2 linked regions of the Homo sapiens genome follow. The protein of the gene in region 2 interacts with the protein of the main gene of each other region in a biochemical or structural test. Each region holds a gene or a part of one and is shown on either strand. Other genes may lie near its edges.

Region 1 (7,845 bases), on a different chromosome or scaffold from region 2:
TCATATTCTCACGCACAGTAGAGACTCAAGAAGTTAGAAAATTTCAGTAAGGACAAATAAAAGCTACTCATAAGGTTAGCTGGGTGCAGTGCCTCACACTTGTAGTCTCAGCTGCTGGGGAAGCTGGGACAGGAGGATTGCTTGAGACTAAGAGTTCAAGGCTGCAGTGAGCTATGATTGGACCACTGCACTCTAGCCTGCGTGACAGAGTGAGACCACATCTTTTTTTTAAAGAAAAGAAAAAGGTATTGGCCATGCTCGGTGGCCCATGCCTGTAATCCCAGCACTTTGGGAGGCAGAGGCAGGCAGATCACCTAAGGTCAGGAGTTCAAGACGAGCCTGGCCAACATGGTGAACCCCGTCTCTACTAAAAATACAAAAATTAGCCAGGTGAGGTGGCAGGTGCCTGTAATCCCAGCTACTCAGGAGGCTGAGGCAGGAGAATCACTTGAACTCGGGAGTTGGAGGTTGCAGTGAGCTGAGATCATGCCATTACACTCTAGCCTGGGCAACAGGGTGAGACTCCATCTCAAAAAAAAGAAAAGAAAAGAAAAAAAAAAAGACAAATACGTATCTACTGAGGCCCTACTGTGTTCACTGGGTTAGGCGCTGGGGCTCCTGTGGGGAAGGAAACAGGCAGTTGTCTTTGCCTGCATGGAGTAAAGTCTAGCAGTGGGTTCCAGCATGGCAAACCACCTTTCCTGTTCTTTTCCTTCTCAGGGTCCCCTCCTAACCGCAAGCGTCCTGCTAACGAGAAGGCAACTGATGACTATCATTATGAGAAGTTCAAGAAAATGAATAGGCGGTACTGAGTTGTGCAGAGTGGGATGTAAATATCGCCTTCCTCTCCCTATATCCCTCCCATGAAAAATGGCTTCCTGGCCGGGCGTGGTGGCTCCTGCCTGTAATCCCAGCACTTTGGGAGGCCGAGGTGGGCGGATCACCTGAGGTCGGGAGTTTGAGACCAGCCTGACCAACATGGAGAAACCCAGTCTCTACTGAAAATACAGAAAAGTTAGCCAGGCGTGGTGGCACATGCCTGTAATCCCAGCTGCTCAGGAGGCTGAGGCAGGAGAATTGCTTGAACCCAAGAGGCGGAGGTTGTGGTGAGCCGAGATTGCACCTTTGTACTCCAGCCTGGGCAACGAGCAAAAAACTCTGTCTCAAAAAAAAAAAAAAAAAAAAAAAAGAAAAAGAAAAATGGCTTCCAGGACAGAGCATGCTCATTTGCTGGCGGACAGTTCCAGAAACAGACCCTGTTAGTCCTTCTACTTACCTGCTGGATTTTTCAAGCACTAAATTTATAACTTTTTGAAACAAAATAATGTGTAATTTTCCATTTGGGGGCAAACTCTATTCTTGTGAGCATTATTAAATCTTGTTTGTAAATATATTGTCTTTCTCTTAATATTTGCTCTGGGTCAGGAAGAAGCTGTTCACGGTGTGATAATACTCTTTAGATTGTGCTTTCATTATTATAGATGCATCATGTCTTCTGCTTTCACGTGTCTGGGATGGGGTCAGAAATGCATCCTCCAGCTGACAGAAAAATCCAGGATGAGATCAGAAGGATACTGGTGTTTTCTGACTTTTACAAAATTACTTGTTTGTTTTCATTAAAAAAAAAGCATAAACTATGTTTCTTATTACTATTAGAATTATTAAATTTCAAAATGAATCCAACCTTATTGTTTGTATTATGTTTCTTATACCAGCATCAGGTAATGTTTTTAAAGCCCATGGTTTGGGTAGCCTAAATGTAAAACTGAATTACTGAGATGGATTTTCTCATTTATTTCAAACAGTGAGCTATGATTGGACCACTGCAGCATAGACATGCTGCAACCTGCTGTCAAGTACCTTCTTACCTGTGCCCTCATTTTTCCTGAGGCATCCACAGGGGTCCAAAAGAGGAAAGAGCAGATTGGCTGACTTCTGGGTGGATTTAGAGCAGGTATTGTGGTTACAGTGGTTTGGCCCAGGAGTCAGATCTGAGCCCACCTCGCAGCTTACTACTTGTGTCCTTGGACAGATCCTTTTCACTCTTAGCCTCAGTTTTCTCATCTGTAAAATGGAGATTTTTTTTTTTCCTCCACTTGAATATGGTCAGTGAAGGCAGGAACCATGTGTGCCTAATTTTTAAATTTGAATCCCCAGGGCATAGCCCATAATCTGACAGATAGGCAGTCCTCAAAACTATGAATGATCCCTATAGTGTTTGGCTTGTAACAGGTGCACAAAAGTATTTTAAATCCAATACGAAAAAGTCGAAACTTAAAAAATATTTTCAGGATATTTCAACAAACATTTACAGGTCCCAGCGATGTGCAGGGGTAACCCAAGATGAATACTAAAGGCCTAGCACATCTGGCACACAGCAACGCAACACGTGTTTATGGGATGAACAGGCAAATAAGTGGATGGTCAACAGTTCTCACTTGCCAGAGTTCCCTTTGCTAGAAAATGAGTAATCTTTTATCCAGCTTAAAAGTGGCTGCCAGATGGAGGGAGCTGGTTCTCTCACTGTTGGGGTGGGAATTCACAGATAAACAAGGGGAGGAGGCTCCAATGATCTGTGTAATGGATTAGAGTTGGAGATGTCAGCACGAGCTCATGTTTAGCTTAATATAGGTACAGATGTTTACCTATAAAAATATTTATAGATATGTGTGTGTTTAACAGTATATACACACATTTTTTTCTGTCAGCTGAGACTGAAAGAAATGACATCTCAATAGCAAGAAGCACACCTAGCACCCAGACCTTGGTTTCTCTTTTTTTTTTTTTTTTTTTTTTTTGATACGAAGTCTCGCTCTGTCACCCAGGCTGGAGTGCAGTGGTGCGATCTCGGCTCACTGCAACCTCCACCTCCCAAGTTCAAGGAATTCTCCTGTTTCAGCCTCCCATGTAGCTGAGACTACAGGCACACGCAACCATGCCTAGCTAATTTTTTTGTATTTTCAGTAGAGATGGGGTTTCACCATATTGGTCAGGCTGGTCCCAAACTCCTGACCTCAGGTGATGCACCTGCCTCAGCCTCCCAAAATGCTGGATTACAGGCATGAGCCACCATGCCCAGCCAGTTTCTAATGCCATTTTACAATGAAAGGAATCAGGGTTCCTCGTAGAAAATAGGATTCTAGGACTGGGGCAGGAAATACAAGATGAGCCCGGAGTATCCTGTAGTGTCAGAAAGGAAAGAGGCACTCAAACCCAAATAAGCTGGTATATACACTGGGTGTATGTCAAAGGAGCACAAGGAACCACTCAAATTCCCAGTGGCCAAAATGAGAACAATTTGAAAAAAAAATTAGTACTGTAGTATAACAAAGGATAAAATAACAATGGTCCACACTGATATAAATGATTGAATACATGGGGGAGAAGAAACAAATCTCCCATGCAGAATTCCAAATAATTTCTGTAGATACTCTGCCCCCAAGGAGGTGGAGCAAAATCCCCGACTCCTTACGTGTGGGCTGTGCATGGGGACGTCCTTCCAAAGAGTACAGTAGAGAAAAGAGGGGTGGGGGGACCTGACAAACACTACTTCAGTCAAGTGATCAAGTCAGCACCAACAGTGGTAAGTAACGTTGAACAGTAAGAACCCTTCCTTGGTAGGATGTGATGAGCATAGCACTTTACCTCTGTGATCTTCCTTCCAAAACGCCATAACGCTTGTCTAATCCTGAGAAAAACATCAAATCCCAATAGAGGGCCAGCCCACCAAAGATTTGGCCAGTACTCCTCAAAACTATCAAGGTCATCAAAAATAAAAAGCTGAGGCCAGGCGCGGTGGCTCACGCCTGTAATCCCAGCACTTTGGGAGGCTGAGACGGGCAGATCATGAGGTCAGATCAAGACCATCCTGGCCAACATGGTGAAACCCCGTCTCTACCAAAAATACAAAAATTAGCCGGGCATGGTGGTGTGTGCCTGTAATCCCAGCTGCTCAGGAGGCTGAGACAGGAGAATCGCTTGAACCTGGGAGGCAGAGGTTGCAGTGAGCTGAGATCATGCCACTGCACTCCAGCTAAAATAAAAATAAAAGGCTGAGACACTGTCATTAACAGTAGTCTAAGACATGACAACGAAATATAATGTGGTATCCTGAATGGAAACCTGCAGCAGAAAAAGGCATTAAGTAAAAGGAAGGAAATCTGAATAAACTACACTTTAGTTAATATGACAACAGTGCATCGTTAATTTTAACAAATGTAGCACACTAATAATGTAAGATTTTAGTAATAGGGGAAATTGCAGGGATGGGTGGCACATGGGAACTCTCTACTATCTTCTCAATTTTTCTGTAAATCTGTTCTAAAAAATAACGTCCGTTATTATTATTATTATTATTATTATTATTTGCGGGGAGGGGACACAGTCTTGCTCTGTCTCCCAGGCTGGAGTGCAGTGGTGAGATCTCGGCTCACTGCAATCTCCGCCTCCTGGGTTCAAGCGATTCTCATGTGTCAGCCTCCCCAGTAGCTAGGGCTACAGGTGCCTACCACCACACCCGGCTAATTTTATATTTTTAGTAGAGACGTGGTTTCACCATGTTGGTCAGGCTGGTCTCGAACTCCTGACCTCAGGTGATCCGCCCGCCTCAGCCTCCCAAAGGGCTGGGATTACAGGCAGGAGCCACCATGCCTGGCAAAAATAACGTCCATAAACAAAAACACGTGGCCAACAGGGGCGGAGCAGAACCGAGTTTCCGGAAGCAAAACAGGGCTTTGTACCGAACAAAGATGGCGGCCGCCGGCGTCGGGAGGAGGGCTGCCCTGAAGAAAGATGGCCTCCGCGAGAGGAGGAACCGGAAGCGTGGGTCTGGCGGCTGCACCGGTTCGCGGTCGGCGCGAGAACAAGCAGGGTGGCGCGGGTCCGGGCATGAAGCTGGGCCGGGCCGTGCTGGGCCTGCTGCTGCTGGCGCCGTCCGTGGTGCAGGCGGTGGAGCCCATCAGCCTGGGACTGGCCCTGGCCGGCGTCCTCACCGGCTACATCTACCCGCGTCTCTACTGCCTCTTCGCCGAGTGCTGCGGGCAGAAGCGGAGCCTTAGCCGGGAGGGTAGGCTGGGGCGGGGGCTGGAGGCTGGGGCTGGGGCTGGGGCTGGGCGATGGCACTAGGGCTGAACTAGGACCAGGGCATGGAGAATGGAGGATGGAGGCCGGGGGATGGCACCAGGGCCGGGCTAGGACTAGGGCTGGAGCGGGGCCTGGGGGCTGGGGCTGGGCGATGGCACTAGGGCCGGGTTGGGGCTGGGGCTGGGGCTGGGGGATGGAGCGGGGCCCGGGGGCTGGGGGTGGGGCTGGGGGATCGCACTAGGGCTGGGTTAAGACCAGGGCGGTTGGCTGGGGCTAGGGGATTGAGGATGGTGGATGGAGGCTGGGGGATGGCAGTAGGGCCGGGCTAGGACTGGGGCTGGAGCGGAGTTTGGGGGCTGGGGCTCAGGAGCGGGGGCTGGGGCTGGGGCTGGGGCTGGGGGATGGCACTAGGGCCAGGCCGGGGTAGGGGTCACATCCCAGGAGGGCCGGGCCTGGGCAGAGCTGAGTCCGCGGGGGCCGGACCCCGGAAGCCAAGCGGCCGGCCTGCAGGATGAGGCCTGGCTCCTCGGCCATGACCACAGACGTGCCAGACTTAAGTCGGAGACCTGAGGAGCCAGGCTGCAGGTTGGCCTACTTTGCGCTAAGCTGGGGGTGGACCAGTGGTAACCTCCCTCCGAAGTGGGTTCTGCCTCCTTTCTAGCCTAGCGGGAGACAGGAAGGATGGTGAGGACTCTTCCGCAGCCGACCAGGAGGGACCAAACTGTTTCCTTTCCCGGCTCTGCCTTGGGGTGGGAGGAGCAGCACAGGGGTTAGGGGTGCAAACTGGTGGCAGTGGCAGTGGCACCAAGGGGCTTTTCGGGAAGGAGTCGGGCCAGGGCTTTAGAATAGGCAGGACCAGCAAAGGGAGGGCTCCCTGGACCGCCGTCCCCTCTGGGCCAGGAGCTTACAGACCGCAGTACTTGAGGTTTCGCAAGGTGCTTGGAGGGCGTCTAGACGGCTTTGCTGGCTTTCTTATGGGCTGTAAATGTGGCTACATTTTGCCGCTGTTTCTTCCCCACTCCTGATTGGCTTTGTCTTTCCCAGCACTGCAGAAGGATCTGGACGACAACCTCTTTGGACAGCATCTTGCAAAGAAAATCATCTTAAATGCCGTGTTTGGTTTCATAAACAACCCAAAGCCCAAGAAACCTCTCACGCTCTCCCTGCACGGGTGGACAGGCACCGGCAAAAATTTCGTCAGCAAGATCATCGCAGAGAATATTTACGAGGGTGGTCTGAACAGTGACTATGTCCACCTGTTTGTGGCCACATTGCACTTTCCACATGCTTCAAACATCACCTTGTACAAGGCAAGGATGGAAGTTTGGAATCCCTTCCTGGATGTCATCGGGTTTGGGGTCTCTTTGTTGTGGGATGAGATTTGGGAGTTCTATGTTGAAATGAGTGAGCCCGGAAAACGGTTCATGTCTCAGTTCCCCTTGGAAAGGTGTAGAAGTTAAGAGTTTGAGATGCGTGGAGCAGTTAATACCATCAAAGCTTTGTGGTGGGTTCTGAAAATCGGTCCAGTGAGTATGTAGGGTCATGGGATTTTAGAGGTGGACATGATCAAATCCATCTTAGAGATCAACACATCTCACTCATTTTTTTATTTTTTTCTTTATTTTGAGACGGAGTTTCACTCTTCTTACCCGGGCTGGAGTGCAATGGCATGATCTCAGCTCACTGCAACCTCTGCCTCCCGGTTGAAGCAATTATCCTGCCTCAGCCTCCCGGGTAGCTGGGATTACAGGGTCCTGCCACCATGCCCAGCTAATTTTTGTATTTTTAGTAGAGATGGGGTTTTGCCAACTTGGCCAGGCTGGTCTCGAACTCCTGATCTCAGGTGATGTGCCTGCCTCAGCTTCCCGAAGTGCTGGGATTACAGGCGTGAGCCACCATGCCTGGCCACATCTCACTCATTTTGTGAAAGAGGAAACATGTAGAGTCCTAAGTTTGTTGAACCTACTGTTGTAAACTGCCTTTTTTTTTTTTTCTTTGAGTCAGGGTCTCACTCTGTTGTCCAGGCTGGAGTGCAGTGACGCCATCTCAGCTCACTACAGCCTCCACCTTCCCGGTTCAAGCGATTCTCCTGCCTCAGCCTCCCAAGTAGCTGTGACTACAGGCATGTGCCACCACAGCCGGCTAATTTTTGTATTTCTAGTAGAGATGGGGTTTCCTCACATTGGCCAGGCTGGTCTCGAACTCCTGACCTCAAGTGATCTGCCTACCTCAGCCTCCCAGAGTGCTAGGATTACAGGCGTGAGCCACCTTGCCCAGCCGCAAACAGCTTTTATGGTTGAACTCACTGATGAGCAGCTTGGGCTTTGGCAGCAGACACATCTGGATTTGAGTCCTAACACTCTCCCAGCTCCGTAGTCTTAGGAAAGTTGCCTGACCTGAGACTCAGATTCTGACTTACAAAGTGTTGCTTGTAACAATCCAGGGAGCTCTGTCTGTCAAGTGCATAACATGTACCTGGTGCATGTTACAAATAAATGTTAACTGTTGCCTTTTAGATCCTTGTAGCAGACCTGCAAGATGGGCAAAACAGTCAATTATTTATTTATTTATTTTTGAGACTGAGTTTCATTCTTGTCACCCAGGCTGGAGTGCAGTAGCACCATCTGGATCTTGATCTCGGCTCACCGCAAACTCTGCCTCCCGGATTCAAGTGATTCTGCTGCCTCAGCCTCCCAAGTAGCTGGTATTACAGGCACCTGCCACCACACCCAGCTAATTTTTGTATTTTTAATAGAGACAGGG
Region 2 (7,864 bases):
CTGTAAATACTGTTACTTTTATACAAAGAAAGTTATAAGTCAGCCTCCAGGATCAAGTCCAATCTACAAATATGACCTAACATCCATAAAGCAAATCTACAAATATAGAACCCAATATAGCACTATCCTCTAAGGTCAGACTGCCTAGACCTGAATGACTGCTCCAGCTTCTGACTTGGTGTTTCTCTCTCTCTCTCTATGCCCTTGGTTTTCTTTGTTTTTTGTTTTGTTTTTGAGATGGAGTCTCGCTCTGTCGCCCAGGCTGGAGTGCAATGGCGCGTACTCAGCTCACTGTAACCTCCGCCTCCCAGGTTCAAATGATTCTCCTGCCTCAAGCCTCCCGAGAAGCTGGGATTACAGGTGCCCGCCACCACGCCCAGCTAATTTCTTTGTATTTTTAGTAGGGACAGGGTTTCACCATGTTGGCCAGGTTGGTCTCAAACTCCTGACCTCAAGTGATCCACCCACCTTGGCCTCCCAAAGTGCTGGGACTATAGGCGTGAGCCACTGCACCCAGCCCCTGGCTAATTTTTTCCTTGGTTTTCTTAATTACAAAATGGAATAATAGTACTTAGATGAAAGAGGCAGTGTGAAGATCAAATGAGATAATGTGCAATACTGGCAACCACAGGGGCACAAAAGAAGTCCTCAAAAACCGTAAATAATTATTATTTGAACTATTAAAGGCAAAACCAGACAGCTTCATTTATATAATTAAAACCCCAGAAGACACCAATGTTTCAAAATTTGACTTTTTCCAAAAATGTCATTACATTTACATGATAGATACTCATGGTCAAGGGCTGAAGGAAAATCTCTAAAAATCAAACAATTTGATTTGTTGAGGTAGTGGAGTTATAGGTGAATTTTCTTCCCAGAAATTTCGATTACCAAAATTATGTGCACAGTTCATACCAGAGCCATGGCACCAAAAAAAAAAAAATCATGTGCCAGCTCCTTTAAATATTAGTAAAGAGGAAAACAGCCCACACAGTAACAAAATAGGAATTCAAACCCAGCTATGACTCCAGTCTATGCTCATTACCAATGTTAGGGACACGCTTCCTTATTCCCAAGTGCTTGATTTCTGTGCAAAATTTATGGTAATATATGATCGCCCTATGAATTCCTTCTTGTAGGACACAGTTTAATCCAGTAGTTCATATGATGTAGAAATATTAATGAAATTTTAACACAATCAAAATTCTAAATGGTAAATAAAACAGCCAATTCTTCATTCTTTAAATTTTTTTGGAAGTTGTCGAATCTCCAAGTTTATGGGCCTTCACAGTTGACTTAGTGAACAACCTCAAAGTGATAAAGCAGACAAGGCTTTTTGAAGCAAACATTCCTTCAGGAAATTCAAGTGGCACTTCAAAGAAGTGTGGACTTTCCTGGAATAGAATTTTGACTTCTGTGTTCCATGGAAATGAATGGAATACAGAAATTACTTCTTAGGCAAAAATAAGTTATATACAAGATACAATACATTATTAAAACACCCAATAATCCTCAAATAATTAGCTACATTCTGAAGTTAATTTATTTATAAATTATTGAAGCTCTCAAGCTAGCATTACCTCTACATTAGGAAAGAAACTAGATAAAATAGTTCTTAAATGAGTCACGCAAGGTTGCGTAACAAACCAGCAGAAAAACAGGTAATCAAGTTGTGGACTGCACGTTCAGCATAATAAACATTACTGAAGACAGGCACTCAGTTTTCATAACAAATGTTAGTTTTTCAAACTATTCTAATCCACACAAAGTCTTCCAAAAACATCTGTAGTTACTCTACCATGAAGTTCCTTTTTTTATTAAATGTTTCCACTGGCCTTTTATATCCTCATCTTGTGCTCAAAAAAAAAAGCTCAAAAAACATGGATAACTGCCACAGCTTAAAACAAAGAAAGGATCTCTCATACAGATCCAAAATAAAATGTGTTAAAACCTAAAGACAGGTAAAACAAAGCCAGTATGTTTAATCTATGTAACTCATTTCTGGATCTGTGTAACAGTATAAAGTCTGATAATTAAGCATTACTCATAAAGTAGAGAGTACTATGAAATTTGTTAAAAGAAGGAAAAGGCACAAACTTTTTCATCAGGTATTAAATACAATTGGGAGAATGGTACATATATAATATGTAAGCAAAATGGTAGGAGGTCTTACTAAAACTTCAACTTTGCCCTTTTTAGCACCAATTTTTTTTTTTTTTAAGTATTATCTTTTCAGGATTAAGATTATGAATGTCGAGAACCTAGGCATGTTGGGAATGGAGTAATCGCCGCCTACACTAGTAGGCAAATTTCCCACTCACATTTCGAACCCTAAAATAATTCGGCTTCTCACCTTAAAGTCTAAACCCAAAAATTTACTCACATCTTAACCCATTTAATATTTATAAGATTCAGTTTCTTTTTATCCCAAAACAAAAATATACCCCCAACCTACCTCGTTTACTGTTTGAGTGAGGCCAGGCGTGGTGGCTCACGCCTGTAATCCCAGCACTTTGGGAGGCTGAGGTGGGAGAATCGCTTGAAGCCAGGAGTTCGAGACCAACCTGGGCAATACAGTGAGACCCTGTCGCTATAAAAATAAAAAATAAAGTAATTAGTAGGGCATGGTGGTGCGGGCCTGTAGTTCCAGCTACTTGGGAGGCTGAGGCGGGAGGATCCCTTGAGCCCAGAAGTATGAGGCTGTGGTGAGCTATGATCACGCCACTGTACTCTAGCCTCGGTGACAGGGCAAGTACCTGTCTCAAAAACAATAAAAATAAAAATACCATTTGTGCGGTACGAAGGTGGGGGTGGGGAGGGACCGTTTCTGAAAGTCCTTTTCAAAAATTCAAGATATCAGTTTCAATACTAAAACATGGAAAAGCTGCATAGTCATTTTGTTTACTTACAAATTCTGGCGAAGTTTTAAATCGTAAAACTGTTAGTATCAGGAGAGCCCTTCGAGTATTCTCTCCGCTCCACACCGCTCGGCTGCACCCAGCGGCCGCCGCGGCCCGAATGTCGTCCAGGGTCCCCGCCCATATGACAAACACTTTCCGCCGGAAGGCGCCCGTGGAATCCTGGGACTAGTAGTCTCCGTGCCCTGCCTTCTGCCTTCTCCATCCTTCACCCTCTACTGCCAGGTCGTCTGACCCAGCGACAGGCGCGGTAAATGCGCGACCAAACCGCAGAGGTCCCATGCAATCTCATGCTGACAGGATTACAGGCATCTCTGTAAGACGTCGACCACCCTGACCTGAAATTCATAGACTGAAGAAACTCATAGGACCAACACAGTGAGCAGCAGTACCAAATGATAATGGCAAGCACCATGTCCTGGAACACACCCTCTGTGCCATTAAGAGGAGCATGTAATCCAATGAGTTGCCTAATCTAAACCTCAGTTTGCTCGTGTGTCAAATGGGGACAACGTTACTTACCTCATAAGTTTGTTATTAGTAGATTAGATGACGTATGCAGCATTTCTGTTAAATGACAGTAGTGACAAAAAATAGCTGTTTTGATCTACTAATTTTATAAATGTGAAAATTAAGAGATGGCGAGCAATTTACCCAAGAACATACAATTTGTTGGGGGAAAAATGAAGTAAGTCTAAAATTCCTGTTCTTGACCTACAGCAATTCAGGACAAATCTAACCAAATTTCAAGAAGAAATCTATTCATGTAAAACTCCCTTCCCCTTTCCTCTTTTTTTTCCCATAACAGTCCTGACCAACACACTATTTTACTTATTTTGATTTTTGCCCGACTCCTCCCATAGAATATAATCTCCAAGAAGGCAGGAAACATTTTTTGTCTTTTAGTCTATTTTGTTCACTGCTGTATCCCCAGCACAGAGAACAGGGACTGCCTACTACACAGTAGCTCAAGTATTTATTGAATTAATAATTCCTCATTTAATGTGATTTTTGGTGCCTTCACTTCTCAATCACCCTCTCTTGGCAGAAGTGACAGGATTTGGTAACACTCTTGGATGGTGTTTAATAATTAACTGCAAGTCCTAATTCAACAAAAAGAATACTATATTCCATTCACTTTATTGTGTTTAATTAATTTCAGTATAACATTTCCAGGAATTTTCATTTGTATTGTCATTAAAATATTTTTCTATCATTTGTAAGACTGGGGAATAAATGGAGCCAGCTACTATGTCTTTAATTAACTTCCTCCTGTTTAATATTTTAATCATCTTTTCCTTATTAAAATTGTTTGCCTACTTCATTTGTACTACTAAGTCACAACGGATAGATTTATCTCTTTAAATAAATGAACTTCTGCTTACCCTAAAGCAAAAAGTTCCTGTACAAAAAATTTATTGTTCTAAAATGTTTCATTTAAAATAATTATTTTGGCCAGGCGTGGTGGCTCACACCTGTAATCCCAGCACTTTGGAAGGCCAAGGCGGATGGATCACCTGAGGTCAGGAGTTCAAGACCAGCCTTGCCAACATGGCAAAATCCATGTCTACTAAAAATACAAAAATTAGCTGGGCATGGTGGCAGGCACCTGTAATCCCAGCTACTCGGGAGGCTGAGGCAGGAGGATCACTTGAACCTGGAGTTGGGGGAGGCTGCAGTAAGCCGAGATTGCACCACTGCACTCCAGCCTAGGCGAAAGAGCGAGACTCCGTCTCTAAATAAATAAATTAATTAAAAATGAAATAAAATAACTGATTTAGGAACCCAGTCTCAAGAGCACAGGATTTCCAGACCTAGCCCTAATAGTTAAGTGTGTGAATTAATGCCATTTAATCTGAATTGTAATTTTTCGTGTTTCTGTCGTTCCCAATAAATGACAAATTCCCTAAAGATAGTCTTCCTCATTGCTGGCACACGTTTGATAAGTAAATGAATTATTAAGTGTATTCTTTGTTTTAATCATTTCTTTTCTTACCGGTCTTCTTTTTTGGGTCACTGAATTCCTCCAGATTTCTCAAATTCCCAAAGTAACTTTAATATCCAGAGCTGAGGCATCCTTTTTTAGTGGCCCAGCGCATCCCTTATAATATTGGCTATGACTCTACTGTCACTGTAATGTCACCTCTTTTCAGCCACTCTTATAGTCTGGATAATAGCTACAGCAGAGTATCTAGTTTCATAACAGTTTAGCTTTGCCTCAGAGCTAGTGATGAAAGTTTCGTATCTGTAAGGTTTCTAGGTGAAGGAGGCAGTCACAGTAGAGGTAGGTTTCCTTATGCTTACAACCTAGATGAGAGGGAAAATCCGATGCATATATATATGTGTGTGTGTGTGTGTGTGTGTGTGTGTGTGTTAGCATTAAAGTTACCATACCTCTAATTTTACAGTAAGTGTCTCATTAATTTAGTTGAAAGGCCATTCCTAAGCCTTTACAAGCAGTTTTAATTACAAAATATGCATATTCTGATTATTCAATAATATGCAGAACCTCTCCTCTGATTGTTCAATATGTAGAATCTCTTGTCTCTTTTTTAATTTGTCCCTCAAACCTAAGTTTTACAAGCCTGTATCCAAGTTTTATAAGCTAGTATCCCAGTTTCTACATAGTCATCTGTCTTGGTAAAATGTTTCAAGGAGACTTTAATGTTCATAATATGAACTCAATATATTACTATAAAATTTATATTTAATAATTAAATCTATTAAGGAACTTATACTATTGTGTTACTAATGAGTAATGTAATAGCCACTTTAAAGAGAAAGCCCTGCTTAAAACATAAATAAAAGCCACGTATTACCATATCAATACTTTTGAGCATTTTGTTGGAAGAGTAAATCTAGCTAATTTCCGAAATATACCATCTAATCCAGACTGACAAGGAAGAGTATCCTTTTCATTTTTCCTTAAAAGACAAGAAGAAAGAAGAAAGAGAGACAGAAAAGAAAGAAAGAAGTCTCTCTTTTGTTACTGCAGTTTTTAAAAGCTATATTGTACATAAAGCTACAGTAAACTAAGCTCCTAACAGGCCAAACCTTATCTCACTCTAAAACTGTAATTCCTCCTGCCTGTGGCCAAATTTATGGACAATATTAGTAAAAACATAGTACACAGTCGGGCAGGGTGGCTCACGCCTGTAATCCCAGCACTTTGGGAGGCCGAGAGGCGGATCACGAGGTCAGGAGATCGAGACCATCCTGGCTAACACGGTGAAACCCTGTCTCTACTAAAAATACAAAAAAATTAGCCGGGCGTGGCGGCATGCGCCTGTAGTCCCAGCTGCTGGGGAGGCTGAAGCAGGAGAATGGCGTGAATCCGGGAGGCAGAGGTTGCAGTGAGCCGAGATCGCGCCACTGGACTCCAGCCTGGGTGACAGAGCAAGACTCCGTCTCAAAAAAAATAAAATAAAAATAAAAATAAAATAAAAACATAGTACACATTACGACTTAAGTAGTTGAAATTTGTGCCAAGTTTGAGCAACAAATGAGTTGCTCAAAAACATTTTAAGGTGATTACTTGGAAGAATAAACAAACACCTTCAAACTTTTCAGAATCGCTCATTGTAACTGGTATCCAAATTACAATTTTTTAAATCTATTCACTCCAATCATACAAAGCCCTACAAGCAGTTGTATATTTGAAGGCAATTTAAGCTTTCTTTCAATAATTATTCAGACTTTACACGAACTTAATCGACCTTCTCTGAATGTGTCTAAATTTGGTTAGGTATTTGCAGATTAGCCACATCTGTAAACATTTGTATAAGGAGGTGAAACAAATAGATTTTACCATGCTTTCTTATTCCATAAAGTCCATAAAGCATTCTAAATCAAATGTAGAGTATCACGTCACATCCAGAATAAAAGTAAAAATAATGGATCACAACTTAAAATTACAGTGCTGTCTTTAATTAAAAAACTTGTTCATTTCTCACTGTGCACAATGTAGCACTAACATGGTCTTCCGAACACTGCTGCTTGGTATAAAACCGAGAAATATTAAAGACCAGGAATAAGGTTATGTGTCCTATGGGTACATTTCGGAAAAGAAAATACATCCAACGAGTATGACTCTAGATAGGATTTTGTACACCCTCAACAAGTGACAAAATTCAAAACTAGGTAACCGCCCTCATAAGGTACTTGAAACTAAAATTTTTGCCACGAAAACATGGCATGTGCAAAAGTTCTCTCTCTGGCCATCACTCCTGCTAAGGACACTGGGAAGGACATGGTCAACGTAGCAGTCGATCAAAAAGATTCCAGGGAAACTGCGCAACAGCCTGGGGCCGAGAAGCGAAACTTGGGTCTTCTCCACCCTCGTCGCACTCCTTTTCCCCGAGACTTGGTACTGGGAGATAGGACGGGAGTCTCCTACACGCAGTCAACACTTGCCACGAGCGGCTAGACTTAGGACAGGCAAGTTGCCCTGCCATCCTTCTATCGCCCCCACCCCTCCTTTACTTAAGGGCGATGGCAGAGACGTCCTCCTCCCCCTTCTCCTCCTCTTTGGTGCCTCCAGCCAGGAGGCGGGAGCGATCCACAGCAGCTGACCCAGCTCAGGCACTGCCTCTCTCACAGCCCTCAAGACACACCATGGGCCCAGAGGCAGGTTTGCTACACAGCAGCGACGACGCAGGCGGCGGCCCCAGCGACTCGCAACTGCCTCCCTGACCACAGCGGCCACCGCCCAACACCCCCGAGAAGCCATCGCCACCACCGGCAGGAGAACCTAGGGTCCATAAAGCCATCTTCGCGATCGACTAAAGCTACGTCAACAACTATGGCGGGCGACGGGCGGCGGGCAGAGGCGGTGCGGGAAGGATGGGGTGTGTACGTCACCCCCAGGGCCCCCATCCGAGAGGGAAGGGGCCGGCTCGCCCCTCAAAATGGCGGCAGCAGCGATGCGCCTGCGTACAGAACTCCTC

What was found.
Region 1: the proteins of TOR1AIP2 (region 2) and TOR1A form a complex in vitro, tested with the Homo sapiens proteins (4 studies listed by BioGRID and IntAct, with this or other methods).

The regions. Positions count from the first base shown.
Region 1 is NC_000009.12:129,821,128-129,828,972, reverse strand, and holds the start of TOR1A (torsin-1A precursor), read left to right. Parts: upstream 1-4,836; 5' UTR 4,837-4,887; coding exon 4,888-5,065; intron 5,066-6,126; coding exon 6,127-6,392; intron 6,393-7,845. Other genes in the region: splicing factor C9orf78, read left to right, coding at 721-812. UniProt on the Homo sapiens protein: Protein with chaperone functions important for the control of protein folding, processing, stability and localization as well as for the reduction of misfolded protein aggregates.
Region 2 is NC_000001.11:179,874,784-179,882,647, forward strand, and holds the start of TOR1AIP2 (torsin-1A-interacting protein 2), read right to left. Parts: upstream 3,021-7,864; 5' UTR 2,910-3,020; intron 2,591-2,909; 5' UTR 2,456-2,590; intron 1-2,455. Other genes in the region: uncharacterized LOC139427322, read left to right, coding at 7,533-7,610; TOR1AIP1 (torsin-1A-interacting protein 1), read left to right, coding at 7,720-7,864. UniProt on the Homo sapiens protein: Required for endoplasmic reticulum integrity. Regulates the distribution of TOR1A between the endoplasmic reticulum and the nuclear envelope as well as induces TOR1A, TOR1B and TOR3A ATPase activity.